Linked DNA regions of Homo sapiens. The protein of the gene in region 4 interacts with the protein of the main gene of each other region in a biochemical or structural test. Each region holds a gene or a part of one and is shown on either strand. Other genes may lie near its edges.

What was found.
Region 1: the proteins of UBE2H (region 4) and UBR3 form a complex in vitro, tested with the Homo sapiens proteins (one study listed by BioGRID).
Region 2: of the proteins of UBE2H (region 4) and POLM, one has a biochemical effect on the other in vitro, tested with the Homo sapiens proteins (one study listed by BioGRID).
Region 3: the proteins of UBE2H (region 4) and MARCHF2 form a complex in vitro, tested with the Homo sapiens proteins (one study listed by BioGRID).

What each region holds. Positions count from the first base shown.
Region 1 is NC_000002.12:169,823,101-169,830,535, reverse strand, and holds the start of UBR3 (E3 ubiquitin-protein ligase UBR3), read right to left. Parts: upstream 3,083-7,435; 5' UTR 3,029-3,082; coding exon 2,484-3,028; intron 1-2,483. Other genes in the region: rRNA N(6)-adenosine-methyltransferase METTL5, read left to right, coding at 5,939-6,047. UniProt on the Homo sapiens protein: E3 ubiquitin-protein ligase which is a component of the N-end rule pathway. Does not bind to proteins bearing specific N-terminal residues that are destabilizing according to the N-end rule, leading to their ubiquitination and subsequent degradation.
Region 2 is NC_000007.14:44,079,430-44,087,330, forward strand, and holds the start of POLM (DNA-directed DNA/RNA polymerase mu), read right to left. Parts: upstream 3,102-7,901; 5' UTR 3,010-3,101; coding exon 2,822-3,009; intron 1,488-2,821; coding exon 1,304-1,487; intron 531-1,303; coding exon 432-530; intron 313-431; coding exon 142-312; intron 1-141. UniProt on the Homo sapiens protein: Gap-filling polymerase involved in repair of DNA double-strand breaks by non-homologous end joining (NHEJ). Participates in immunoglobulin (Ig) light chain gene rearrangement in V(D)J recombination.
Region 3 is NC_000019.10:8,409,285-8,416,335, forward strand, and holds the start of MARCHF2 (E3 ubiquitin-protein ligase MARCHF2), read left to right. Parts: upstream 1-4,020; 5' UTR 4,021-4,136; exon of another isoform or gene 4,137-4,510; intron 4,511-7,051. UniProt on the Homo sapiens protein: E3 ubiquitin-protein ligase that may mediate ubiquitination of TFRC and CD86, and promote their subsequent endocytosis and sorting to lysosomes via multivesicular bodies.
Region 4 is NC_000007.14:129,851,904-129,859,029, reverse strand, and holds part of UBE2H (ubiquitin-conjugating enzyme E2 H), read left to right. Parts: intron 1-88; coding exon 89-128; intron 129-1,466; coding exon 1,467-1,519; intron 1,520-7,126. UniProt on the Homo sapiens protein: Accepts ubiquitin from the E1 complex and catalyzes its covalent attachment to other proteins. E2 ubiquitin conjugating enzyme that transfers ubiquitin to MAEA, a core component of the CTLH E3 ubiquitin-protein ligase complex.

The DNA.
Region 1 (7,435 bases), on a different chromosome or scaffold from region 4:
GCCTGTGTGAACTTGAGCAAGGTTTTTAACTCTGCCCTACTTTCCTCTTCTGTACAATGAGAATAATAAAAGTAATAATCTCAGAGTCAAAGAATAAATAAGTTAAATCACATAAAACAGCTAGAATTTGGCCACTTTTAACCAAATAGATAAAAGTCCAAAATTTTACTACTACTCTGTTGATGAGGCTGTTGGAAAACAGGCAGTCTCACAGAGTAATTAGTACTAAGCCTTAGGGAGGGCAATTTGGAAATCACACTTTTGAGAATTTATCCCACTGACTCTCTTGACCAGGTGGGGAAAAGACAGATACACCACGTTTTTAATTTTATACTGGAAAGCCAAATGCCCATGAAGAGACATTAAATCAAGAATGGCAAATTCACACGCACAAAAAATAAAAATAAAAATAAAAAAAGAAATTAAAGAATGGCAAATTGAAAACATGGAACACTATGCAGCAGTTTTTTTAAAAAAATAGAATGACGACACTGATTTTTTAATAGGAAAAATACATCTAAGATAACCAAAAAATGCAAGATGTAGAACAGTGGAAAGTATGTAACCCTTTGCATAAAAAGAGACTGAAAAACTAGGAAACATCTTTGCTTGTTCTGCACCAAGAGAAACTAAGCGGGAAGGAACTGGACAGATAGAAGACTAGATGTGAGAAAAACTTCCGTGTGTGTGTGTGTGTGTGTGTGTGTGTGTGTGTGTGTGTACTTTTTAGCTATATATTTTACCTATTCAAATATTAAATTTTAAAAAGTACTTTTAAAGTATCAGACATACAGTTCAAGAACTCAAATGTTGGCCGGGCGCGGTGGCTCACGCCTGTAATCCCAGCACTTGGGAGGCCGACGCGGGCGGATCACCTGAGGTCGGGAGTTCGGGACTAGCCTGACCGACATGGAGAAACCCTGTCTCTACTAAAAAAATACAAAATTAGCCAGGCGTGGTAGTGCATGACTGTAATCCCAGCTACTTGGGAGGCTGAGGCAGGAGAATCGCTTGAACCCAGGGGGCGGAGGTTTCAGTGAGCCGAGGTCGCGCCATTGCACTCCAGCTTGGGCAACAAGAGAGAAACTCCGTCTCAAAAAAAAAAAAAAAAAACTCAAATGTTAGCTGCAATTATGTTGTTATTATTATTAGCAAATTCAAAATACCTCCTTTCTGAAGACTTTTTCTTACTCCCTCTGCACAGAAACCTCATCTCCCTCCTCTAGCTACCAAGTTATTGTTTAAGGAATTTATTACTTTCTACTCCAGTGCAAGTAGAGTAAGGGGTTGGTCAATGTTTCATTCATTTTTAATATCCAAGAAGCCTTGCTTGCACATAGTAGGTACAAACATTTTGGAGTAACAGTAACCTTACAAGTACTCCGAAGAAAAAGGTGACCATTTATAAAAAGATTGTACTCTGTCATTAATCCTAAGACCTGAAAATTGAAGAAGTTTAATAACTGATAGCAACCTGTAGTTGCTAATATTCTTTCAACTACTGCCCATCCAAAATCGCCCCTTTCACTTTTTCCTTTTTTCTCAGACTGTCCCTGACATTGACATCATGTTCCAAGCCACGACCCTACATGTACCAACTCTCTGTAACTCACTGCAAACTCTGAAATGTCTTTTCTCATAAGTCCCAACATCTGATGCATCGCTTCTGTCAAAAGGGCATTTGTTGTCTCCTTTTAGACAGAGGTTCACGTATCAGTGAGTGAACAAAGTGCCCTTAACTGGAGAAGACCTAACACTTGATTCCTGGTTCGCTCAGTATTTTGTTTGTTCTCCTGGTATGGAGGGTATTCTGTAACTGACTGCTCAGTAGCCCAATTCTAAATGTCATTCCAGCATACCAAATAATCCACTGACAGCTCAACAGTCACTTTTCATGCAGGCCCCTCCCCTTCCCTCCTCCCTCAACCCTCAAGAGCTCCTTCTCTCACAGTGACAGACACACTGGCAGTTCAGAAGACCTTTTCCTCAAGCGTCCTTCCCTGCACGTACAAGACCACCTCCCCAGCTCTCATCATCCCGCGAGCCAATACGGTCCCCAATAACATCCCCTCCCAGCCAATCCAAATCACAACCTAAGTCTCTTCCCAAGAACCAGGCTTTACAGCCTTTCCCAACAAGTACACACTTGACAGCTCGACACGAGCTTCCCCAAAAATCATTTCCCCTCACTCCCCTCCTACCCCATACACTGGCTCTTTTCTCGCTATCATTTACCCACCCTGGCTTCCCCAAAATTCACAGCCCGGTTTCCTAAACATGCTCTCCGCTCTCCTCTCCCCTCCTTCTCCTCCCCACCCCCTTTCCACCGCTGACAGCTCAGTCACCTCCATCCCCCTGTGGCTGCACCCTCCCCCGCACCCTCCCCTTGACAGCTCAGAGTGGGCTCCCAGTGCTCCGCTCCAGGCCCTCCCGCGACGTCCCCGGCCCAGGGTCGCCTCGCCCGCGGGGAGGGCTCCACTCACCCGCTCTCCCGCATCACGTTGCTGTCCCCGCAGTCGCAGGCGCCCCCGGCCTGGCTGCGGAACATGTTGAAGTCGTGTCCGGTGTGGTCGCCCTGGTGGAAGCACTCGGCGCACAGCGACATGCAGGGCGAGATGCCGCACGTCCGGCAGCGGTAGGCCACGAAGTTGGCTGTCCAGACCAGGCCGCAGAGCGCCGCGGGATCGTAGGCCCGCACCGCCGCGCAGAACTCGTCGTAGCCGCCGCCGCCCGCCAGAAGGCACTTACACCACTCCAGGGCCTCCTCCTCGGCCGCCCCCGGACCGCCCCCGCCTCCGGCCGCCGCCGCGTCCTCGCCGCCGGCAGCCGCGGCCAGCGGCCGCTCGGCGCTCAGCACCCGCTCCAGCAGCGCCTGCAGCTCCTCAGCACCTGCGCGGTTGTCCGGCCGGCTGAGGGCCGCCTTGAGGTGCGCGGCGGTGGCCGCCTTGTCTAGGGCCAGCCCCGGCGCGGGCAGCTCGGGCTGTGACGGCTGCTGGCCCCCGACGGCCGCCGCGGCCGCCGCCGCCATGATGAGAGCTCAGAATTTGGAGAGTCCAGGGCCAGCGGCTCCTCCAGGGAGAGTGAGGGAATAGACTGCTGCGATTGCTCGGCCCGCCCAACTCTCGCGATACCCGGAGCGTCCGCGCTCCTCCGCCCGCAGCCCCGCCCCTACACACGCCCCCTCGGGCTGCAGAGCCTTCCTCCCGCCCCTCTCTCCTGGGCGCCTGTGGACCAAGCTAGGCTCCCAACTTTCTAAGTTAAGAGCTACTGAAATAAAGTACTCACCTTATAGGAAATCTTTAATAAGGGCAATTATTTCTTTATTTGCATAGACTACAGGAATTATTCACATCATCTTTCAGATGTACTTTAGGCATCTGCATTTTGTCTGAGATGTACATTCCTACTGTTATCAAAGTCCAGCGGGCGACAGAATGAAACCCCAACTTAAGGAAAACAAAAACTGTAGGAAAAGCAATCCAAAGAAGAACAGAAGGCCAGGCGCGGTGGCTCACGCCTGTAATCCCAGCACTTTGGGAGGCCGAGGCAGGCGGATTACTTGAGGTGAGGAGTTTGAGATCAGCCTGGCTGACATGGTGAAACCCTGTCTCTACTAAAAATACAAAAATTAGCCGGGCATGGTGGCGCACGCCTGTAATCCCAGCTACTCCGGAGGCTGAGGCAGGAGAATCACTTGAACCCAGGAGGCGGGGGTTGTAGTGAGCCGAGATCGCGCCACTGCACTCCAGCCTGGGTGACAAAGCGAGACTCCGTCTCTAAAAACAACAACAACAACAACAACAACAAAGAAGAACAGGAGTGTTTCCAATCCATAACCTTGTGTTTGAAATGAATGAAACATAATTAAAACAGGTTATTCCTGGTCTTCTACATGAGTTAAGTATGTCACGATCATCATATAACAGTGATAAGTTAAATTTGCTCAATAATTTTACGAATCACTAAATTATAAACTAAATAAAACTTTATGTATTAACTTTACATGCTAAAACTTTGTATGTTTTAACTCATTTGATTCTCATAACAGATAACTTTGAATTCTGCTATTCCTAGAAGTAGCAGCCTCAGACACTTCTCTACTTCGTCATCGTCCATTCACTCTTTTTCTTCTTCCTATAATAATGCAAAGAGGTGTCCATCCACAGGCTTAAACGCAATCCTGCAATCCTTTTACTTAACCACTGGATCCTGCCTTCTCAGGATCCCAACTCCATCCAATATCCTCTTGCATTTTTAACCCCTCTCTTTCTATTAGCTCAATTCTTGTCAGAATTTGTCTCCTCCTGTCTTAAAAATAATTGAAAAAATAATAAAGCTTCCCCCATTACTAAGCATCCAACCATTCTTTTCGTAGGCCACCTTTCTCTTTCTCTTTCTTTTCTTCTTTCTTTTTTTTTTTTTTTTTTTTGAGACAGGGTCTCACTGTCGACCAGACTGGAGTGCAGTGGCGCAATTTCAGATCACTGGAAGCTTTGCCTCCCGGGCTCAAGCGATTTTCCCACCCCAGCCACCCGAGCAGCTGGGACCACAGGCTCGCGTCATCAGACCCAGCTAATTTTTGTATTTTTAGTAGAGACAGGGTCTCCTTATGTTGCCCAGGCTGGTCTCAAACTCCCGTCTCAAGCAATCCGCCCATCTCGGCCTCCCAAAATGTTGGGATCACAGGGGTGAGCCACCGCTTCCGGGGCCACGTTTAATTGTTCACATTTACTCTTTCTTCTTCCTAAATTTCCATTCGCTCCACAATCTGCTACAACTTAATTTCTGCTCCTACTTTATGAAGCCCGACCTCTTTCCAGTATTTGACACCACTACCTATTCTTTTATTTTCATTTCCACTGTCTTTTTTTTTTTGAGACGGAGTCTCGCTCTGTCTCCCAGGCTGGAGTGCAGTAGCTTGATCTCGGCTCACTACAAGCTCCGCCTTCCGGGTTCACGCCATTCTCCTGCCTCAGCCTCCCGAGTAACTGGGACTACAGGCGCCCGCCACCAAGCCCGGCTAATTTTTTTGTAATTTTAGTAGGGACAGGGTTTCACCGTGTTAGCCAGGATGGTCTCAATCTCCTGACCTCGTGATCCACCCACCTCGGCCTCCCAAAGTGCTGGGATTACAGGCGTGAGCCGCCGCGCCCTGCCTCTCCACTATCTCTTCTTTGGGTTTCTTTGACATCACCACTCCTGTGAGAATTGCAAGTGACACAAATGACCTAAAAATTGGGAAACAAAGTTACAATAAAATAAGGCATGAGAATGGAGAAGGAGGTAAAGGTGAATGGAGATCGCTACTTTTTGAGCCGAGACTTGGGAAACAAGAAGAGTCACTCTGGGCCATACAACAAAGTGACTGTGACTTTCTCTCCCGCATCCCTTTCACTCTGTCTTTCCCCATCCTTTGAGGGCCCGCAGGTACTCATGGCAAACTAGAGGGTAATGAGCACGCGACAGGCGGCGAGGACTGGCGGTGGGTCAGCAAGTAGCGCAGGCTTTGCAGGCGGAGGGGATGGGGCAATGAGGCCCCCAGGTGGCCAGCGGAACCCCGGCTCAAGATAAACGCTGCAGCTCGGCGCCGGGCCGCTGGGCGGCGAACGCGTGCGCGCGTGCGGCCTGGCGCTTCCGGCACCGGCCGAGGTGCGGGTCGCCTCCAGAGGTGCGTGGTCGTGGCGCGAGGGATCCTGAGGCTGCTCCAGCAGTGCGCCGCCGCCGTCTCCTGGGGCGGCTTGGGTTAGCCGGGAGGTGGGTCAGAGGCTCGCCCCGTGCCCTGCGTCCGGGCGTCTCCTTAGGGCGCGTCTTCGGGTCCGGCCAGCGGTGCTGAAAAAGGGAGAAGGTTGGGGGTAGGGAGGAAACAAGATCCCAGTTCAATAGATTTCTCCGCAGATCCTGTGCCTTCAAACCCTACGAGTCCATACTTTAAAACAAAATGAAGAAAGTAAGGCTTAAGGAACTAGAGAGTCGCCTGCAACAAGTGGATGGATTTGAAAAGCCCAAGCTACTTCTGGAACAGTATCCTACCAGGCCGCACATTGCAGGTAGGGCGGCTGGTTCACCACGCCCCGGCTTTCGGCGTTAGTCCAGTCTACTCTGTGATAAAAATAGAACAGTTATTTGGATACAGAGAATGTCTAGAGAAATTCTGCCCTAAGATCACCTGTCGCGTTAGAGAGGCCTTCCTTGACACTGCAGCTCAAGGCACACCCTCCACAGACATACACACTATCATTTTACTGTCTAGTTTTCTGCATATCCCTTAACACTGCCAGACATCTTTTTAATGTGTTTTTTTCTCTTCTCACATTACAATCTCTGAGGACAAGGAATTTGTTAGACTTGTTCATACTTGAATTCCCAGTGCCCAGAAGAGTCGCTGGTACTATTTAGGAGCTCAGTAAACATTTACTAAATAAGGATCAGTTTCCCATTGCTACTAATTGCCTACGCAAGGATTCTTGTGCTATATACTCTGCCCTAGAAATGAATACCAGAGTTGATAGTGGAATGATAGTTTAACAAAATCAGAGTATGTGCTGTGTAAAGATGAGCATGCATATTTTAACAGATTTTCTGAGCATTAGCATTGTTGCTTCATGCCAGATATTGATACTGGGAGTACAAGAGAGAATACAGGACAACATATATTTATGTTACCGAAGTCATTGGGAAACCTTAGGGGAAAAAAATTTTATTATTATTATTTTTTGAGATAAGGGTCTCACTCTGTCACCCAGGCTGGAGTGCAGTGGCATGATCACGGCAACTGCAGCCTTGACCTCCAGGACTCAAGTGATCCTCCTACCTAAGCCTCCCGAGTAGCTGGGACTACAGGCATGCACCGTCATGCCTGGCTAATATTTTTTATTTTTTGTAGAGACAGCGTCTTGCTATGTTGCCCAAGATGGTCTCAGACTCCTGGGCTGAAGCGATCTTCCCACTGGGGCCTCAAGAAGTGCTGAGATTACAGGCATGAGCCACTGAGGCTGGCTCCTTAGGAAAATTAATTTTCTGAGAGTACCTGCAAGGAGTTTTTTCCAGTTCCAAAATAGTTGTTTCTAAGTTGTCAATGAAAGTCAAGGAGAATACATGTGTATTTACACTTAACTCCAAGATACTGTCATGATTCCAACCAAAAATTCACACAAAACTACTGTGTCTAGGTTAAGACCAGTTTTCTCAAATAATGACTTACTAGTCTTCTGACTGTAGGTTTTTTTAGTGGAATCCAGTTTAAAAAATAATAACAATCTGGCCAAGTACAGTGACTCACCCCTATAATCCCAGCACTTTGGGAGGCCAAGGCAAGAGGATGACGAGCCCAGGAGTTCAAGATCAGCCTGGGCAATACAGTGAGACCCCAGCTCTTAAAAAAAAAAAATTAGCCTAGTGTGGTAGTATGTGCCTATAGTCCCAGCTGCTGATACTA
Region 2 (7,901 bases), about 86 Mb from region 4:
GTGGCTTGTTGAGGCCTTGGAGCAGTGTCAGCACCCACGACTGTCTGTCCTCACCCACCCCCACAGCACCCTCTGCTGTCTCACCAGGCCCCAAGGCCTCCCCACCCACCCACTCACCCTGCTAGGATGGTAAGCACCTACCTGGACAACCCTAGAGGAGTGTTCTCCAAAGTGGGGAAGCCCCTGCAGCTGGCTCAGGGTTGTGACAGGGCTGGGAAGGGCCTTGAGCACCGAGGCTGCTCTGCAGAAGGTGAGGAGGCGGCCCTCACTGCCTTCAAAGCCTGCTGCCTCGGCCAGTATCTCCAGAGCCTCCTGCAGGGAGGGGCCCTAGGTAAGGGGCAGGGTGGGCAGCTCCAATCCCCCACCTACCACCCATCTGTACCCTTGTCCCCAACCCCCAGGGCTGGCCAAGGCTCATAGAAGCGGCTTACGGAGAGGCCAGTGTTGTGGTGTGTGAGGGGCGTAGGGCGCTGGCAGGCATAGGCAGGCATCCATGCTGGGCTCAGAGGCCCCTTCCTTGGCCCAGCCACCTGGGGATGGGCAATAAACAGGTCACTGTGAGGCTGCAGGGCTGGCAGGAGAGCCAGGCCGTACTCAGGCTTTGTTTCTCCTGGGGTGTCCAACTCGGGCCCTCTGGAGCTCATGGGACAGAGGTGGGCAACAAAACACCAGCGGCATGAGGCTGAGGGAGGCACCGCCCTGCAGAACAGGCTGTGCATGGGGCTCCTCATGCCAGGGTAGCAGCAATCACATCTGCCAGCCCTGTGGGCACTTCTCCTGCTGCTGCACATGATGCATGTACTCCATCACCCCAATCCTCACAACCAAGCGGGCTGGGGATGCTGAGGCCTTGGAGGCTAGGGGCTTGCCCCACAACCATGGCTCACAGGCTGGGCCAGGATTTGAAGGCAGGCAACCTGGCCCCAAGCCCACACCTGTCAGAGGCCGGGAGCCTTATAGCATCCAGAGGACAGGCTCCTGCTAACCCATGGGTCATCCCGCTCGGAGTTGCTGTGTCATCTACTTGGTGAGGAAGAAAGGCCTGAAGAAGGTAAAAATAAGCAGACCCCAGAATTTGCATCAGTGGTGAGAACAGAAGCTGAGATGGCCTGGCCCCCTCAGCCCCTTCTGTGGTTCCTCTACTGGTTTATAGGGGGCCCCTGGTGATCTGGGTAGAGTCTTCACTGCCCACCTCCTCTGAAGGACATTGAGGCATTGCTGCCATGTCACCTGTCCCAGCTGAGCAATGGCCTACACTGGGGCTTTCACTGTAGCCCCCACTTTAGTCTTCCACCCAGCTCACCTCCAGGCGGTGCCGGCACTCCACAGGTACAGGCTGCCCAGCTCCCAGGCTCTCTGTTAACCAGCTTATGTCCAGCAGAGCTGGGGGGGTGCAACCCGGGGGAGCAGCTGCCATCCTGCGCTCCTGCCAGCTGACGGCCTCCTCTGCTGAGGTCTCTTCCATCACAACATGTGTCGCTTCGGAGCTGGTGGAGGGAGTTGGGAGAGAAGGAGGAGGGTGAGGCCCAGAGCCCGTCCTGGTTGGCTCCAAGCCTTCACTCTTGCCGTCCCTTCTGCATGGTAAGTGACCATTCATCCTGCAAACGTCACCTCCTCCAGAAAGCCTTCCCAGCCCCTCCTCCTGGTAGATGAACACCTCCACCACTCAGCCCTCAGAACCGTAGTTCTCTGCCCTGGCTATGTTCACAAGCACAGCCCAGTCTTGTGCTCTCTCCCTCCCTCTTCACCTCAAAGAAAGGAATTCCTTAGGGTCAGGACCAGGTGGTCTTCATCTAAGAGCAAGGGTTTCAGCAGAGATGGAGGAGCCTGTTTGGGTCTGAACCCCAGCTCTGCCTGCCACATACTTGTTTGGCTCTTGGGCAAGCCACGTGTCTATACTTTGATTTCCTCTTCTGTAAAGCAGAGATAACATATCCACCCTGTGGGGTTGTTGTACAAAGATAGTGCCTTGTACACTCTAAGCTGCTATCATCCTCTCCTGAGTGGGTCTGGCGCACTACTGATCCCTGGTAATGTTAAAAAATCAAACACAACTGTGGGGGAATACTAGCCCCAGGTTCGTTTGCTCTCTCAACCTCCAAACTAGGGGGCACCCCCAGCTCCCTTACTCTGGGTGTTGTCTCTGTAGCCGCCATTTTTTCTTCTCTTGGTTCCCTTCCTACAAGAGCTTCTCAGTCGTGTTATTTACTCAGGCCTGAGGACAGAGGAGCCTGCGGGCTCCGGGCCTCTTGAGAAGTCAGTCTCGCTCACAGGTGGGACATAGCCCAGGCAGAAGGGCTGTTAGCAAATACGACTTTTTTTTTTTTTTTTTTTGAGACAGAGTCTCACTCTGTCGCCCAGGCTGGAGTGCAGTGGCGCGATCTCGGCTCACTGCAAGCTCCGCCTCCCAGGTTCATGCCATTCTCCTGCCTCAGCCTCCCGAGTAGCTGGGACTACAGGTGCCCGCCACCACCTCCGGTTAATTTTTTGTATTTTTAGTAGAGACGGGGTTTCACCGTGTTAGCCAGGATGGTCTCGATCTCCTGACCTCGTGATCTGCCCGCCTCGGCCTCCCAAAGTGCTGGGATTACAGGCGTGAGCCACCGCGCCCGGCCTACTGCTTATTAATTACCCCTGACCTCTGGTTTTGATTCTCGCAGTGATCCTTTAAAACACGCCTCGCCCTAATTAATAGCACCCTTTACAGAAGAGGAGATGGAGGCTCAGGGAAAGGTCACAAGACCACGAAGTGCCACTGCAAACTTAGAATCCAAAACCAGAAGTGCCATGGAAGCCCTCGCCGCGCCGCGCCGCCCCGCACCTGCAGGCGTCAAGGACGCGGAAGCCTTTGGAGCGCGCCAGGCCTGTGAGGAAGGCCCGGCGGCTGCGACCCATGCGAGGCTCGACCAGGTAGATGGCGACTCCCGGGAAGCGCGTCGAGGGCGGCGTGGAGGAAGCGGCATCGCCGCTAGGGGACCCGACCCGCGCTCGCCGCCGTTTGGGGAGCATTGGGACGACAGCCTCCAGCAGCGCGGAGCGAACGCAGAGGGAAACTCCGAGCGAGACGGAAGGAAGCCCCAGTGAGGCTGACGGAAGCGGGTGGGCGGGCGGGCGGCCGCCGGCTGGAAGAGGACGTGGCCCCGCCCTATGCAAATGAGGCCTCTCCGTGGGGCTCGCTACTTGGGCCAGTCGGAGCGCTGGGGAGGGTCCGGGCTCCTACAGGATTGGGTGTCCCGGCCGCTCCGGAAGACCCGCCTCCATGCAAATAACGGCAGAGGACCCGCCTTTTATTTAAATTAATGTCTCGGAAAGCGCTGTTCGGCCCCATTGGCCTCCGGGAGGAGAGGCTGGGCTGGAGCGGGGCGGGGAGGGTGTTGGAGGGGGTGGAGGAGGCGGGGTCAAGGGGGCGTCCCCGGCTAGGGAGGGTGAACTGGGACCTAGGCCCGGGCGGAGCGGGGTGGGCTGTGTCCTTGGCGCCGGGGCTGGGTCTAGGGTTGAGCCGGCGGCTCGGGGCGGACGCGTGCGGGCTGTGCCCGATCCCTCTGCGCTCGGGACTGTCACACGGAAGCCGGCGGGCGCAGGACCGACACGCGGGTTTCCAATGCGCTGGTGGGGCGGTCGCTTCAAACACGCGGGAAGATTTTTCAGTCGAATGGCATTAGGACAACTGGCAGGCCATTTGGAAAAATAGAAGTTGGTGCCCTTCCTCATTCCTTAACACCAAAATAAATTCCAGATGGGTCAAACATTTCCATCTAAAAAGGAAACCAACAACGTACTGGAAAAAAGTCGGTGAATGTTTTTATGATCTAAATATCACAATAAACTTGGAAACACTAAAGGAAAAGAATGATAAACTGGACTACAGACAAATTTTAAATCTGATTAAAAATTAGAGTCAGAAGATAAACTGGGATAAAGTGTGAGATATTTTGGAATTAAGATTATCTCATGATAATCTTATCAAATTGTCCATAGATAAAAAGACAATAATTTAATAGAAAAATTAGCAAAAAAACTCACGTAGATGATTCTTAGAAGAAATCCTGGTCAATAAATTTATGACCAGAGTGCCCAACCTGTCCAGTCGTTACAGAATACCTAAATGAGAATATCTTCAGTTGTGGGTTTATCAAACATTCAAAAAAATTGACCACACATGTTGAAGGTGCGAGGTAATTGGCAATCCATAGGAAGGACTGTGGAAGCCAATGTGGCAACCACATCCAACAAAATGAAAACAAAATAATACACATTGATCCAGCAATTCCTTTCCCAAGATTGGGATTGCATTGAATCTATAGATCAAGCTGGGGAAATCTGATGTCTTGATAATATCAAGTCTTCTGTCTATCTTATTTAGATATACTCCATTTGTAACCTCTGTTACGGTAGTGTGGCACTGCTCAGCCTAACTGATGGGACACCAGATCAGATGCAACCCCCTTCCACATGCCTCTCCTCATCACTGCCCCATCGTCCTCAGTCTTGAGCCCCAGACTCCTTGAGCACCTATCCTTTTTCTTTGGCTCCTCTCTGACATCTTTAGTGGGCTGGCTCTTCCCCATCTCTGCACTCAGAGCACAGGGCTGAGGGGAGTGGGGGAGATGGCTCAGCCCAGGCATCCTCTTGACCTCCTACACCATCTCCCAGCCTCCTAATTCATCTACCTCTTCAGGGCTGTAGAGCTTCCTGGGCCTCAGGACCCACATACAGAAGCCAGGAGGCCTGCGTATGGTCCCTCTCTCCCCATCCTCCCCTTGTGCCAGCAGGGATGGGCAGGCTCTAAGGGTCTTCGTCTGTGGATCTGGCTCCTACCCTTCTCAAGGAGGAGGCTCTGCCCAAATATCCCCTGAGCAGATCCCTCTAGCTGTCTAAAACCATTTCTGTTCCTTTTAATGTCCTCTGTCTGGCCAGAGCACCTGGGCTCCCCTTGGAGCCCTTGTTCTCTCCTGGGAAGGCAGAGGCAGTTTTTAAGACTATGAGACCTGAATACTTAAAACACTGGGCAACTGTGCAAAAATGTTTGTGCAAGGAATCTCATCCAAATGACAGTGGAAGAAACTGCCTAGCTTAGAAATCAGCCAGGCCCTCTGAGTGGTTGCTGCAAAGTGTCTGCTAGGACAACATGGGGCTGAAGGATTCATGAAGATTGGCCAGTGGGGGCAAGAAGGGGTGAGGAGGTGGGGAGAGAGAGGGACTTGCCTGCTCTGCAGGACGAAGATGTGCCCTATACCCAGGGAGAGGTGGCCTGCCGTGGAGGTGAAACCACCTTTGCAGAATTGTAAGTCATGAGAGAAATCTAACATGACTGCCTCCCTCTTGCATCTAACCTCACAGACTAAATTGGTTTTCTTATTTCTTTTTTTTTCTTCTTCTTCTTGTAGTGCAGAGGCCAACATAACTATGAGAGGAATTTAGTTCATAGTTAAAGGCAAGAAAAACTGACCCCCTCCTTGTTTGGAGATTGAAACCACATTCATAAGACAAGGTTAGAATTGTGGTGGGGCCTGAACTTTGCTAAAGAATGGGCATAAACAGCGACCTGCCGTTTCTCACTTGGCTTGCTTTTCTATAATGCTTACTGCCCTGGAGTCACATAGCCGGAAATCTCAAGATTTCTAACTTCTCCAGCTGCTCATATAGAGGCCGGGCACAGTGGCTCACACCTGTAATTCCAGCACTTTCGGAGGCCAAGGCGGGTGGATCACTGGAGGTCAGGAGTTCGAGACCAGCCTGGCCAACATGGTGAAACTCTATCTCCCTAAAAATACAAAAAAATTAGCTGGGAGTGGTGACACATGCCTGTAATCCCAGCTACTCAGGAGGCTGAGGCAGGAGAATTGCTTGAAGCTGGGAGGTGGAGTTTGCAGTGAGCTGAGATCATGCCACTGCACTCCAGCCTGGGAGACAGAGCAAGACTCCGTCTCAAAAAAAAAAAAAAAAAATCACTATTATGAAACCTAAAGAACTTTGAGATATTTTCTAGATTTAGAATTTTAGCAGACCAAGAGACACTACCTGGACCTGTGACCCACACCAAGAAACTGACTCAGCTGCTTGAAGATAGTTTTGATACCTCTGTGATTTCATCCACTGCCAATCAGTTGTCTCAGCTCCCTAGTCCCCTGCTTGCTGAAGCACCCTTAAAAACACTAGCCTCTGAATTCTGGGGGAGGTGGTTTTGAGAATTATCTTTCATCCTCCTTGCTTGTCTGGCCCTGCAATTACAAAACTTTCTCTGCTGCAACAGTGCCCCCACTGGAGAACATGGTGAGGGGGTGTCCCTGCTGGAGGATGGTTGGGGAGGGGGTCCCTGCTTGAGGATGTGGGAGGTATACCTGCTGGAGGAGGGGTGAGGGAGGGTGTCCCACTGGAAGATGGGGGTGGGGCGCAGTGGGGAGCCATACTAGGGCCAAGAATATCCCCAGGACTGGAGGTAGCTTTTGCAGCTTAAACAAGAGGCATAGTCGCGAGGGCAGGTTAGGACTTGGGTGTGTCCAAGAGGCACTTGGAAGGAGTTGCCCTTCCCAGAGGGTGGCCCTTGAGCTATGGAAAAGATCCCACTGAAAGGAGATGGTTAGATTATCTCCTGCACATTGGAAATTGTCTTTGAGTTTCCATCTTCAATGGGCCTGGTTTCCCTGTACTTGTCTGTGGTGGTCACTGTGGGAAGGCAGTGAGGAGTGGGTCTGGGGAGGGAGAGGGACTGCCACAGGGGCAGCAGTGGCCACCCCCCACAGGTCCAGACCATCCCCTCTCCAGAGTACAGTGGAGCAGGGTACACCTAAGAGCTCCAAATAATACTTAGGCCCAGGCCCCTCCCCAAATAATCCAGTTTAATTGGTCTGGATATGGCTTGGGCATTGGCATTTTATTTATTATTATTAATTTTTTAGAGACAAGGTCTCACTCTGTCACCGAGGCTGGAGTGCAGTGGCACAATCACTCTTGGCTCTTGTGCTCAAGTGGTACTTCTACCTCAGATTCCTGAGTGGCTGGGACTACAGGCATGTGCCCCCACGCCTGGCTAATTTTTTTAAGTTATTTTTTGTAGAGATGGGGGCTCTCACTATGTTGTCCAGGCTAGTCTCAAACTCCTGGCCTCAAGCAGTCCTCCCACCTGAGTCTCCCAAAGCGCTGGGATTACTGGCATGAGCCACCAAACCCGGCCGACATTGGCATTTTTAAAGTTCCCCAGTGACTGATGTGTGGCCAAGGTTGAGATTCACTGCTCTAGAGGGAGGGGACCCTTCAGGGAGATGGAGACCCTGACAAGAAGCTTACGCGTGTAAAAGTGAGAGCTGAGAACCACCTGAATATCCAGTGACCAAGAGCTGGTGGAATAAATGTTGCTGTGTTCATACTGTGGAATATTATGCAGCCATTAAAAATGATTCTGTGAAGTTTTACTCTTAATCACCCAAAACTGTAAACACTCCAGATGTTCTTGACCCAGGGAACAGCTTCACACACTGGTGTGTGCATCCCATGGAATGCTAAGGAACATTGAGATGAAGGGAACCGGTAATGCAGCAGCTTGGGTGAGTCTTCAGTGCCTCATGCTAAGTGGCAGGAGACACATATGCTCTGATCCCATTTATATGACAACTCGGAAAAGGCAAAACTATAGGATAGAAAACAGACCAGTGATGGGCAAGGCTGGGAGCTGGGGTCGACTACAAAGAGTTTGAAGGCATTTGGGGGTGATGGAATGTCCTCTATCTTGACTGTGGTGGGAGTTACAGGTTACAAGACTGTGTTTGTCAAATTCATAGAATTATGAACTGAAAAGGGTGAATTTTACAGTATGGCAACTATACCGCACTCAGCCTGACTTTTAAAAACTGGTGCTGGCTGGGCGCAGTGGCTCACGCCTATAATCCCAGTACTTTGGGAGG
Region 3 (7,051 bases), on a different chromosome or scaffold from region 4:
CAAAAATAAATAAATAAATAAATAAATAATAAATAAATAAATGAAATTATCTGCCAGGCACAGTGGCTCACGCCTGTAATCCTACCACTTTGTGAGGCCGAGGCAGGAAGATCCTTTGAGCCCAGGAGCTCAAAACTAGCTTGGGCCTCATAGCAAGCCCCGTCTCTATTATTTAAAAATTAAGGCCAGGCACAGTGGCTCACGTCTTTAATCCCAGCACTTTGGGAGGCCTAGGCAGGTGGATCACGAGGTCAGGAGTTTGAGACCAGCCTGGCCAATACGGTGAAACTCCGTCTCTACTAAAAATACAAAAAAACTAGCTGGGCATGGTGGCGTGCACCTGTATTCCCAGCTACTTAGGAGGCGGAGGCAGGAGAATCGCTTGAACCCAGGAGACAGAGGTTGCAGTAAGCCAAGATTGCACCACTGCACTCTAGCCTGGGCAATAGAGGGAGACTCCATCTCAAAATAAAATAAAATAAAAAATTGGCTGCGCGCGGTGGCTCAGGCCTATAATCCCAGCACGTTGGGAGGCCGAGGCGGGCAGATCACGAGGTCAGGAGATCGAGACCATCCTGGCTAACATGGTGAAACCCCGTCTCTACTAAAAAATACAAAAAAATCAGCCGGGTGGGGCGGCGGGCGCCTGTAGTCCCAGCTACTCGGGAGGCTGAGGCAGGAGAATAGCGTGAACCCGGCAGGCGGAGGTTGCAGTGAGCCGAGATCACGCCACTGCACTCCAGCTGGGCGACAGAGCGAGACTCCGTCTCTAAATAAATAAATAAATAAATAAATAAATAAATAAATAAATAAAATATCATTCGCCACTAAAATGAACCAGGGCTCTTCGGAAAAATGGTTGAGTCCAGGCCTGGGGCAGGCAAAAGACAAGACAAGTCAGCCTGGAAGAGTTTGTTGAGCCAGTTAGTAAGGAAATGCCCCAAGATGGAATTAGAAAATCACCATTTGGGGCCGGGCGCGGCGGCTCACGCCTGTTATCCCAGCACTTTGGGAGGCCAAGGAGGGCGGATCACCAGGTCAGGAGATCGAGACCATCCTGGCTAACACGGTGAAATCCCATCTCTACTAAAAAAAAATACAAAAAATTAGCCGGGCGTGGTGGCGGGCGCCTGTAGTCCCAGCTACTCGGGGGGCTGAGGCAGGAGAATGGCGTGAACCCCGGAGGCGGAGCTTACAGTGAGCCGAGATCGCGCCACTGCCCTCCAGCCTGGGCGACAGAGCAACGCTCCATCTCAAAAAAGAAAATCACCATTTGGTTGCTATTATGGTAATAACTGACTCAGGCAAGGGTCATCAATTGATATTAAGCTCTTGGAAACGGCGTGTGTTGAGGAACAGGCTATTTAATTACTTTCGAAGTATCTCCCCAGAAAGCACTTATTAACAAAGTGTAAAGTCAGGTGCCGTGGCTCATGCCTGAGGTTAGGAATTTAAGACTAGCCTGGCCAACATGGCGAAACCCCATCTCTACTAAAAATACACAAATTAGCTGGACGTGGTGGTGCGGGCCTGTAATCACAACTACTCAGGAGGCTGAGGCAGGAAAATCACTTGAACCGGTGGCGGAGGTTGCAGTGAGCAGAGAGGGCGCCACTGCACTCCAGTCTGGGCCACAGAATGAGACTCCATCGCCAAAAAAGAAAAAAAAAATTGGTCGGGCGTGGTGGCTCCTGCCTGTAATCCCAGCACTTTGGGAGGCGGAAGTGGGCAGATCACTTGAAGTCAGGCGTTTAAGACCAGCCTGACCAACATAGTGAAACCTGCCTCTACTAAAAACACAAAAATTAGCTGGGCGTGGTGGTGCGGGCCTGTAATCCCAGCTACTCGGGAGGTGAGCCAGGAGAATCCCTTGAACCTGGGAGGCAGAGGTTGCAGTGAGCTGAGACCACACCATTGCACTCCAGCCTGGGTGACAGAGTGAGACTCTGTCTCAAAAAAAAAAAAAAAAAATTAAAATTAAATAAAATATTAAAAACAACAACAACAACAAAACACCACAGTGTAACATACTAACCTCACACTGGAGAAACTGGCAGACACCATTTGAACCAAGTTAGCACAATCGATAGTGGACAAAATCAGCATTGTATGCATCCTGAAAACACAACGTCACATCTGTTTCCTGCCACAAATGCAAAATCATGAGAAAGTATTAGACAAATAGCAATGGAAGGACTTCCTGCAAAATTACTAGCCTGGAATTTTTGAAAAATATTGATGTCATGGAGAGAAGGTAAGATTGATAAAATGTTCCAGAAAGAGAGACTAAATTAGAGTCGTTAACAACAAAATACAATGCTTGATCCTGGGATGGATTTGGGATTTTTTGTTTTTTGACACAGGATCTTGCTCTGTTGCCCAGGCTGGAATGCAGTGGTGAGGTAATGGCTCACTGCAGCCCAGAACTCCTGGGCTCAATTGATCCTCTCACTTCAGCCTCCCAAGTAGCTGGGACCACAGGAGGATGCCACCACAACTGGCTAATATTTTTATTTTATTTTGTAGAGATGGGGTCTCACTGTGCTGCCCAGACTGATCTCAGACTCCTAGACCCAAGAGACCTTCCTGCCTTGGGCTCCCAAAGAGCTGGGATTGCAGACATGACTCACTGTGCCTGGCCTGGACTTTGGATTTTTAAAGGACTTTATTGGAAACTTTTCTTTTCTTTTTTTTGAGACAGAGTCTGGCTGTGTTGCCCAGGTTAGAGTGCAGTGGCAAGATCTCCGCTCACTGCAACCTCCACCTTGCAGATTCAAGCAATTCTCCTGCCTCAGCCTCCTGAGTAGCTGGAATTACAGGTGCCCACAACAAAACCCAGCTAATTATTTGTATTTTTAGTACAGACAGGGTTTCACCATGTTGGCCGGGCTGGTCTCGAACTCCTGACCTCAAATGATCCAAGTGCTGGGATTACAGGCATGAGTCACTGCACCTGGCCTTTGAATGGGCTCTGGGAATTACATGATAATATTAGATGAACATTAATTTTCTGATTTTGAAGGTTATACTGTGATTATGTGCAAAAGTGTGCTTATACTAAGTGAACATATAGTGCAGTATTTTTTTAAAAATTGATCTGTCTTAGAGATGGGGGTGGGTGAGTTTACTATGTTGCCCAGACTGGCCTCGAACTCCTGGGCTCAAGTGATCCTCTTGCCTCAGCCTCCAGAGCAGCTGGGACTACAGGCCTGGGCCACCACACTTGGCTAACTTTTATTTTATTTTATTTTATTATTTATTTATTTATGTATTTATTTGAGACAGAGTCTCACTCTGTCACCCAGGCTGGAGTGCAGTGGCGCGATGTCGGCTCACTGCAAGCTCTGCCTCCCGGGTTCACGCCATTCCTCTGCCTCAGCCTCCCGAGTAGCTGGGACTACAGGCGCCCGCCACCACGCCCGGCTAATTTTTTTGTATTTTTAGTAGAGACGGGGTTTCACCGTGTTAGCCAGGATGGTCTCGATCTCCTGACCTCGTGATCCGCCCGCCTCGGCTTCCCAAAGTGCTAGGATTACAGGCGTGAGCCACCGCGCCCATCCTTTTAAATTTTTTGTAGAGACGGGAACTCACCATGTTGCCCAGGCTGGTCCCCAACATCTGGCCTCAAGCGATCCTTCCGTCTCGGCCTCCCAAAGTGCTCCGATTACAGGCATGAGCCACTGCACCCGGCCAGTCTCAAAAAAAAAAAAGTTAAATTCTGCAGAGGTTTTATTTATTAGAGGACGCTGGCCGTCTGCAGGTGGCGCAGCAGCACCCCCTCGTGCCTGGGGCGGGGCTGGGGCGGGGCCAGTGCTGGGGCGGAGCCGGAGCTGGGGGCGGAGCCAAGACGCGGCAGGGGCGGAGCCAGCAGCTGCGGCACAGCGGGGCCTGTGCGGCCCAAGTCGTCCCTGTGGCCTCCGGCCCCGCCTCTTAGGGCGGGACGTGCAAGGCGATTGGCGAATGCAGGCGAGAGGCGGTCGCTATTGGTCCGCGGCGCTGTCGGCTCGGCGGGCGGTGCCCGGACGCAGGTGCCGGCCGGAGCGGAGCTAGTGGCGCCGACGGGCCGGGCCGGGCCGGGACCGGGGCCGAGGCGAACCGAGGGGCCTGTGCGGCCGCCCGGCCCGGCCGCGGATCAGGTAGGCACGGGCCTGCAGGTAGGGCCGGAGGACGCCAGTCCGCGGGCCGGCCCCGGGTTCGAGGCCGGAGCTCGGCACCCGGGCGGGACGGCTGGGCTCGATCCCTTGGCCACAGCCTTCTCGGGGACGCGGGGACCTCAGTTCCCGTGTCAAGGCCGGTGGGAGGTCTCCGGGGTCCGGCACACATAGGCGCCTCTCCGAGCCTCGGTTTCCCCACCTGTGAAACTGGGTCATCCCATTGCCAACCTGATGGGGCTTCTGGGAGGATTCAGGAGGTGGCTGGTGCAGAAAACGCCTGACACACAGTAGGCAACTGCTAAGTGGCCAATGCCCTTCCCCAACCTCCTTCTCAGAGCGGCTCTGCCTGCAAAATAGTAAGTTATAATATAATGACCCAGCCACTTTGCACAAAGATGCTGAAACAGGATGCCCTGTGCTATGTGGGTGCTCAAAACGGGGTAGTCAAATGGGCATGTTGAGCTCATTCAGTTCTTTTGAAACCATACTGAGTAGGTGGAAGCAGTAGAAATGTCCCCTGTTATACAGTTGAGAGAGTCCAGGCTCAAAGAGGTTAAGTGTCTTGCCCAGGGCCACACAGCACATAAGGAGTAGAGCTGGGATTGGAACCTTGCTTCTCATGCAGGGAGGAATGAATGCAATAACAACCTCCACATTTACCCTAAAAAATATTAATAGAGCTTTTATTGAGCACTTACTGTGTGTGCCAGGGTTGACTGTGTGACCTCTCATCAACAACTCTGTAAGCTGATGATAGTAATTATAATAAGAGCTAATAGTTATTAACTTCTTAATTTTTTACTAATTTATGAACTACATATCATTATGACTCCCCGTCTTTTTTTTTTTTAGACAGAGTCTCTCTCTCTTGCCCAGGCTGGAATGCAGTGGCACGATCTGAGCTCATTGCAACCTCTGCCTCCCAGATTCAAGCGATTCCTACCTCACCCTGGTCAAGTAGTTGGGATTACAGGCCCCCGCCACCGTGCCTGGCCAATTTTTGTCTTTTTAGCAGAAACGGGGTTTCACCATGTTGACCAGGCTGGTCTCGAACTCCTGGCCTCAAGTGATCCACCTTCCTTGAACTCCCAAAGTGCACAAAGTGCTGGGATTACAGGCGTGAGCCACTGCGCCCGGCCTGTAACACTCATTTTAGAGATGATAATACTGAGGCTGAGAGAGTAAAACAGCTGCCTGAGACCACAATGTAGGGAGTTTTAGGGCCCTCTGATTCCTCTGCCCTCTGTTTCCTACCTTCAGGAAAAGGAGCCTGGGCAGGTATGGAAAAGACTGGGGGGCCTCAGTGCCACCCTAAACAAGCCTAGCTAAGGGTGAGCTTTACTGGATGAATTCAGCCTGGAGGCTCCTTCTCAGGAGACCCCTCCACGGACAGAGTCCACCAGCTCCATCATTAGAATGAGGCCCAGAGAAGCAAAGTGACTTGAACCAGGACACCCAGCATCGGTGGCATAGCCAGGAGGGCCAGGAGTTAAAGAACCCAGGTCTCTTGAGGTCCAGAACCACTCCCTGGACTGTTTTAAGTTCAAATTCTGACACCACCCCTTCCTAGCTATATGACCTTGGGAAAGTAGGTGCCTCTCTCCGAGCTTCAGCCTCTTTCCCCATCATAGGGTGTAATTATTGGTTTGTTGTGAAGACTCAATGAGATCTATCTCCAGGCCGGGCGTGGTGGCTCATGCCTGTAATCCCAACACTTTGAGAGGCCAAGGCGGGCAGATCACTAGGCCAGGAGTTCAGGACCAGCCTGGGCAACTTGGCAAAACACCATTTCTACAAAAAAATACAAAAATTAGCTGGATGTGGTGGTGTGCAGAGCTACTCAGGAGGCTGAGGTGGGAGGATCACCTGAACCTGGGGGCGGTGGAAGCTTCAGTGAGCTGTGATTACTACACTGCCCTCCAGCCTTTTGGGTGACAGATTGAGACCCTGCCTCAAAAGAAAAAAAAAAAAAAACAGACAAAAGAAAGAAAAGAAATAGGCCAGGCGCGGTGACTCATGCCTGTAATCCCAGCACTTTGGGAAGCCAAGGCGGGTGGATCACCTGAGATAAGGAGTTTGAGACCATCCTGGCCAACATGGTGAAACCCCGTCTCTACTAAAAATACAAATAATTAGCCAGCTGTGGGTGGAGGGCACCGGTAATCCCAGCTACTCTGGTGGTTGAGGCAGGAGAATCGCTTGAACCTGGGAGGCGGAGGTTGCAGAGAACCGAGGTGGTGCCATTGCTCTCCACCCTGGGCAACAAGAGTGAAACTCCATCTCAAAAAAAAAAAAACAAAAAAAACAAAAAAAAAAACCAGACAAAAGAAAGAAGAGAAATAAATCTCCTGGGCACTGGGCCAAGTTTGCTGGAGCCATCAGATCACTCTCCCATTTCAGCAGCCTCAGAGCTGAGTCCGACTTGCAGTCACCCTCTCTTTGTGTCCAGCCTCAAGTTTGGCCTCTTCCAGGCCTGGGCCTCTGTGGTTTGAGTGGACCTCTAGCCTCTAAATATCTCTGATGCCCACCACAGGGGCTGGCCGACCAGGATCGGAGGGTCAAGAGATGTGGCTCTCTCACGCTGTTCTTAAACGGAGTGAGGATTGAGAAATGACTACAACATGGCCAGGCACAGTGGCTCATGCCTGTAATCCCAGCACTTTAGGAGGCTGAGGTGGGCGGATCACGAGGTCAGGAGTTCGAGACTGGCCTGGCCAACATGGTGAAACCCTGTCTCTACTAAAAATACAAAAATTAGCCGGGTATGGTGGTGGGTGCCTGTAATCCCAGCTACTCGGGAGGCTGACGCAGGAGAATCCCTTGAACCCAGGAGGTGGAGGTTGCAGTGAGCTGAGATCGGCCACTGTACTCCAGCCTGGGCGACAGAGCGAGACTCT
Region 4 (7,126 bases):
TTCCCAATACTGAAATTGTTTCCAGTACTGAAATACTTTTATTGTTCTCTGGATACTTTTTGCTGCTAATTAACATCTCTTTTTACAGGATTCATGAATAAAATTTTCCATCCCAACATTGATGAAGCGTAAGTAACTATTTTAAAATGTTTCAATTTTAGCAGCAACTGCTCATGATTAGTGTTTCTCTGTGTTATAAAAAGCCTCGGTTATCTTTTTGGACCTTATCAGGAGGTAGGACTGTATGAATGGTCATGTAAATGATAGAATCCAAAGGATATGAGGTTCTCAATCACTTAGTTCACATTCTGCTGTTGTACCACTTATTTTTTTCCATTGTCGTGACTGGGTCCTTCATTTTTCTTGTTACCCAGCAAACAGTAGTAATATTCCACATCTCACTTCTCTTTTTGTAGACACAGTTCAGAGATCTGTTTTCAGCCTACAGATAGACTATTTTCAGATCTTATAATATTTTCTCAATTCTTGATAGATAGTAAGGCAAAATGACTATAGTTTCATTTCAGTTAATGAATCTTATTTATCCCCTTCTTTCCTTCTAATATTTTATTAATGATACTTTAAAATATTCCAGCATATCCTGTTTTATACTTCTAGTGCTGTTTAGAATATATTATTGTTTGGGATGCAATTTTAATTTGTCATGGCACTAAGTTTTACTGTCTCTCACAAACATACCTAACAGGTTTTTCTGCACTCTGTGTGAGTAGGTTGTATATATACATACATCATGCCCCTTAGTCCTTTAATATTAATATTTTATTGTATCAGTTATCCTAACAAGGATATTCTCTTATCTATCCACAGTATATAGTTGTCAGATTCAGGAATTTAACGTTAATGCAATACTTATTTAATCTACTGCCATATTCCAGTAACTTACTTTTTAGCACTTTTTTCTTTCAATAAAGGATCCAGTCTAGAATCACACATTACATTTAGTTGTCATGTTTCTTTAAACTGCTTTAATCAGGATTAGTTCCTCAGCCTGCCTTTATCTTTTATAAAATTCACTTTTTAAAATAACATAGACCAGTTATTTTATAGATTGTTCCTCAATTTGTGTTTGTCTGATGTTTCCTGATCATTAGATTCAGGGCATGAACACACTTAAGGCCAGAAAACTACAAAGTAAGATGGTGTCCTTCTTGGGGTATCACATTCAGAGACACACAAGGTCTGTCTGCCCCTTGTGTTCTCAGCACCTGGTTCAGGTGTTGTCTGGTTTCTCCATTGCATAGTTACTATTTTCCCCTTTCAGTCTGTAAGGTGACACTTCAAGACCTGGTACTATTCTGTTCCTCATCATACTTTTCCCCAATTGGGATTCTTTTTTTCACAGATCTATTAGAAGTATTTCTCTTGATAAGTAAAAATTAGTTGCCAGATACATGCAACTAACTTTCTAATTTTTAAAAACATGCCATTCTTTCCATCTGTTTCAGGTCAGGAACTGTGTGTCTAGATGTAATTAATCAAACTTGGACAGCTCTCTATGGTGAGTTTGGCCATGGAATATTTTTTGGAGATGTTGAGACATTGCCTAAAAAAATGTTGTTTGGCTTTTCTTTTCTGGTTTAAGATGTTTTGTTGGTAATGGGAAGGGATTTTTGAGGGACCGACTGGGAAAGTTTGATCAGTGGAAAAAATGTTTTCTCTTAAGTACAAATATATCAGTTTAGCTGTGGAAGTTTAAAATGATTTTTTGAGATTCCAAACTTAAGGTATAGTGATACATGTGCACACACATGAGTACATGCGCACACACATGAATACATGTGCAAACATTTTATATGTATGTATTAGCACATAATATATACATATTTTGGTTTTGGAAAAAACTAAAACTACTTAGGAATGTCCCTCTGAAATGAGAGAGCAATGATATAGTAAGAGGTTTTAGGGGATCATCTTTTCAAAGACCAAAACCTCCTTATGAAGGAAGAGTAATTTAGCCTTACCTTCAGTGCTGAAATTGACACCCCATCTCTTACAGGGAATCAACAAATGAATTGCCCAGCTCTGCAAAATGCTATGCTGAATATCCCAGAGAGTTATAAAGAGCATCAGGCCTTTCCTCCTTATCACCTGGTTGGGGAGCTGAAAATATGTTAAAATACAGTCATCTCTTGGTATCTGCAGGGGATCAGTTCCCAGACCACCTGCAGATACCAAAATTCATGCTTACTCAAGTCCCACAGTCATCCCTGTGAAACCCACTGACATGGAGGGCTAGCTGTATTTATTGAAAACCACATGTGAATGGACCCATGCAGTTCAAACTGTGTGTGGACCCATGTTGTTCAAGGGTCAGTTGTGTATTTGAAGTTAATTAGGGATACAACAAATAAATCTGTTTTTCCCTCCACATGTCCAAATCTCAGGCTTCATAGAGTCTACCTACTCCAGTGCTCCTACCCCGTATACTTCCGCTGATTCTCCAGCTGGAAGTAATCTCTGGATACCATTACATTTTATAGCTCCTTTTTTATGGTCCACTTTTACTTTCTACTGTGTATTTGTTGTTTATGCCTATTTTTTTGTGCTACTAGATTATTTCCTATCTTAAGGGCTATCGGGTGTGTGTCTGATTCATCTGTAAGGCCCAGGACTCTTATCACAGTGCCCTTCACCAGTATGGGTTGAAAGAATGAATGGTACAGGTAACCATTGCTGAGAGGCACAAGAAAAGAAGGGAAAGCTCAGTTGAGGCTGAGCTTAACCAGGGATGGCTGCTTCTTGTTGAACTTGTACGACCTTTTAGTGGTCTGAGGTAGGTAAGACTTCTTAGTCCAGCCACAATCTGCAAGTTACTTTTGCCAGATATCCTTGAACTAGATTGGTAAATGAGAATCACAGAGAAAGGTTGGTCACCAGCAGAACACAGTTAATCCCTGCCTCCACCTGATTGTGCCGTTCAAAAATTATTTTCTCTACCTGGGATATTCCCCCCTGATCTTTGTGTGGTTAGCACCTTCTTCACTCATCTCACATATTACTTCCTCAGAGCAGTTTCCTTTCCCAGCTACTCCATCTGAAATCACACCCCTCCATAGCACAGCACCCAGTTGTATATATATTTTTTAATTTTAAAATTATTTTTTAATACATAGAAACAGAGTTGCACTCTGTTGCCCAGGCTGGAATGCAGTGGTGCGATAATAGCTCACTGCAGCCTTGAGCTCCTAGGCTCGAACAGTCCTCCCATCTCAGCCTCCCCAGTAGCTGGGACTATAGGTGCATACTACCATGCCTGGCTAGTACCCCGTTTTCAATAAGCTTCTAAAACTGGTATTTGTATATTATTTATCTTATCCCCTTGGATTGTAAGCACCATGAGTGAGGACTTTGTCTTGTTCTCGTCTCTCTCTCTCTATACACACGCACACGCACACGTGACTGTAACAGTGCCTGGTGCACAATAAGGGTTCGACTATTTGTTGTCTTAATGAGTGAATTAATCATGTCCAGAACTGTTTAACAAGAGAGTTTTAGGGGAGATGATGGCATATAGTTGAGGCAACAAGAAAGAACATACACTCCGAGCTTGATTAAATGGATTCCTTTTAAGATGGTTTTTTTGGTAAAAATGTCTCATGGCAGGCTGCCTGGAATATCTGATGTAATGATGTGTTTTCTTAAACTACATTCACATCTTAAAAATGTACATATCAAAATACTGCAATCTGGTTCCAATTACAATGAAGTAAATTGATGTTTAGTTTTGCTAAAGCTTTTACCATTGACCAGAAAAGCTTTGTGAAAGATGTTTGCTGACTGTCAAGTACTTCATGTCTCAGAACAGGTTTTTTAAAAAAATAACAGTTTCACTGAATTATAATTCACAGACATGCAAATCACCCATTTAAAGTGTGTAATTCAGTAGTTTTTAATACATTCAGTTATATGCAGCCATCACCACAGTCAATTTTAGAACATTTTCATCACCTCAAAAATAAATGTGTACCCTTTAACTATTCGCCCTAGGCAACCACGAATCTGCTTTTTGTTTCTGTGGATTTGTCTTTTCTGGACACTTCTTAGAAACGTAATTATATAATATGTGGTCTTTTGTGACTGTTTTTTTTTTCACTTTGCATAATGTTTTCAAGGTTGATCCGTGTTGCATGTATCGGAAGTTCTTATGGCTGAATAATATTTCATTGTGTAGATAAACCACATTATTTGTCAGATAATAGACATTTGGGTTATTGCTGTCTTTTGGCTATTATGAGTGTTATAAATATTTGTGCACAAGTATTTGTGTAGACATGTTTGCATTTCTCTTGGGTATATACCTAGGAGTGAAATTGCTGGATAATATGTTTAACTATTTGAGGACTGATAGACTACTTTGTAAAGTGGCCAACATGAGTAAGTTTTCATCACATTTATAAAATGTTAGTGTACTTACATTAGCTTGCAAAGCATTTAATAAGCAGCAAGAGTTAAACCACGTTGGTCCAAGTGAACTGAAAGCAGACTTCTGTGTTACATGTGTATGAGTTACTGAACATGTTCCATAATACAGGAGTGTGAGCACACTAACAGGTAAGTGCAGGAAAACAAGAAGAAATATTTTCAGAGTATAGTCAAAAGTACACTGAGCATGGGAGAATTGTTTTGACATTTTGCTCAAAACTATTTCTGAAGAAAATTCAACATTTCTTTCACGGAAAGTTTTAGGAACAGGTAAATACAATTATATAAAGTACTGGTAGAATATGTTCGTTCAGATGACCTTGAAGTGTTTTTTCAGACTTATCTGAACTTGAGATCTGAACTGAATTTTTATTAGAAACTGTTAAAGCCTCTGGCATTGAAGGTTAGTTCATAATTGGTGAGTTCTGAATCACTTCATTTCCTGCAGTGGTTCCTGAGAGAATCTTAGTTCAAAGGACTGCCCCCGCCAACCCCTGCCCCGCCAAAAAAAAAAAAAAAAAAAAAACTAACACTAAATAACTAATAGGAGAAAGTTGGCGTGTCAACATAAATATTCAACTGAAAAGCAAAAGGCTAAGCCTGGCACCTAAAACTTGTTTCAACACTTTCCTCTGCTGTAGATTCGATGAGGGAGCAGGGAGTGGATTGTGAAATTTCCTGCCATTTACCTTGCCCCAGGACATGTACTGTTCTGTGGGTATACATATTTGTAGCGTAACAACAATTCACAGTTGAAATTTCAGATGTATGTTAATCATAGCCTGATATTAAACAACATTCATGTTAGCAGTAAATTTAGTCCTCTGTCCCCTCACACCCTTCCCCGCCATTGATTTCTGGTAAGCCAGTTGACTCATTGCTTCTGTTCTTATCCTGTTTTCTCTTTGCCAAGTGTATGTGCAATTTGTTTATTCAGAGTTCAAAATTGGTATAATTGTGGTTTACTCACCCAGTAATTTTTAATTTTGTATTATTTAACCTTACAAGAGAGCTAATTATAGTGAGGAATCGGATTAATTTTGTAAGATGCTTGCCATCAGTATGAAGTTATCAAGTATGAAGTTATCTATTGTTATTGTTATGACATTAAACAGAAAGTAGCAGATGACCAAAGTGATTTTGGCTTCCTGCATGATAGCATCTTTTTTTTTGCATCCCTTCCTGCTCTTCCAGACAGCAGTGACAGAAGCTCTGAGAAACATAAAATGTAGCCAAGGGGATCTGGATTTCCATTTCAAAACAAATTAATTTTAAGGACTGATAGGAGAGTTCATTAAGCCACAGGTAGCTTTTTAAGCACTCTTCTATTTTCCAGTTTTCCTTTTTTTCTCCAAAATATATTTTATCTGTAGTTGGCTTATCACCCTGCACTCCTGGGGGCCCAGGTGCCTTCACTGCGATACAGCTTTAATCTCTCTCTCATCCCACCCTTCTGGACCAGGCATGCTTGATCCCTGCAAATGTGTTTCTCTCTCCAGCTTTCATTTTACTCATTCTTTGACTGCCTTCGTAAATTATTTATATGATGGATTAAGTTGTAGGCTGGGCACGGTGGCTCATGCCTGTAATCCCAGCACTTTGGGAGGACAAGGCAGGCGGATCACCTTAGGTCGGGAGTTCGAGACCAGCCATAACCAACATGGAGAAACCCCATCTTTATTAAAAATACAAAATTAGCCAGGCGTGGTGGCGCATACCTGTAATTCCAGCTACTCGGACAGCTGAGGCAGGAGAATTGCTTGAACCCGGGAGGCGGAGGTTGCAGTGAGCCCAGATTGCACCATTGCACTCCAGCCTGGGCAATAAGAGCAAAACTCCATCTCAAAAAAACAAACAAAAAAAAAAGTTGTGGAGAAGTGAGGTGGAAGACAATTTTCTTATGAAATTGGGCAGTTTACATTTTCACTCTTAGGGTTGCTAGCCAGTGGACTAGATACTTCTACTCTTATTTTGCTGGAGAGAAAAATCAACATTTGGGAAAAGTCTTCCCCTAGAGTTATCTGGGGAGTTAGTAACAGGCAAATAAAATTGACTACAACAGAAGGAATACTTCAAGGACTTTGAGATTAGGCAAGAGATACAAATTTTTTTTTTTTTTTGAGACGGAGTCTCGCTCTGTCGCCCAGGCTGGAGTGCAGTGGCACGATCTCAGTTCACTGCGAGCTCCGCCTCCCGGGTTCACGCCATTCTCCTGCCTCAGCCTCCCGAGTAGCTGGGACTACAGGCACCTAAAATTTATTTTACCAGGCATTTAGAAATTTAAAATACAAATTTAACACTTATCCCATCCCCTTTTCAGTTAGATAGTCTGTGAATCTTCCCAAATAATTCAGATTTTGGCAGAAGGTATATCTTAAAATAATGCTTTATGCTGGATTAGTGCATGCTGTTTCCTAAACATTTTAGTGTAACTACACAGATAAGAAATACATGTATGTGTCTTCATGGATGATTAATTGGCCAACTACTATTTGAACAGCTTGAGAACTTCAGTATTGATCTGTCCATGTTGAATCACAAACGTCATCCTGCCTTTGGAACAGCTGGATGTCATTATTTGTAGATAGAGGCCAAGTAGAGCAATTCTGTCCAGTACTATTGGGATAATGTCACCTGTTGTACATAATAAAGAAATGTGCTCAGTTGTGGATTTGCGCTTCAA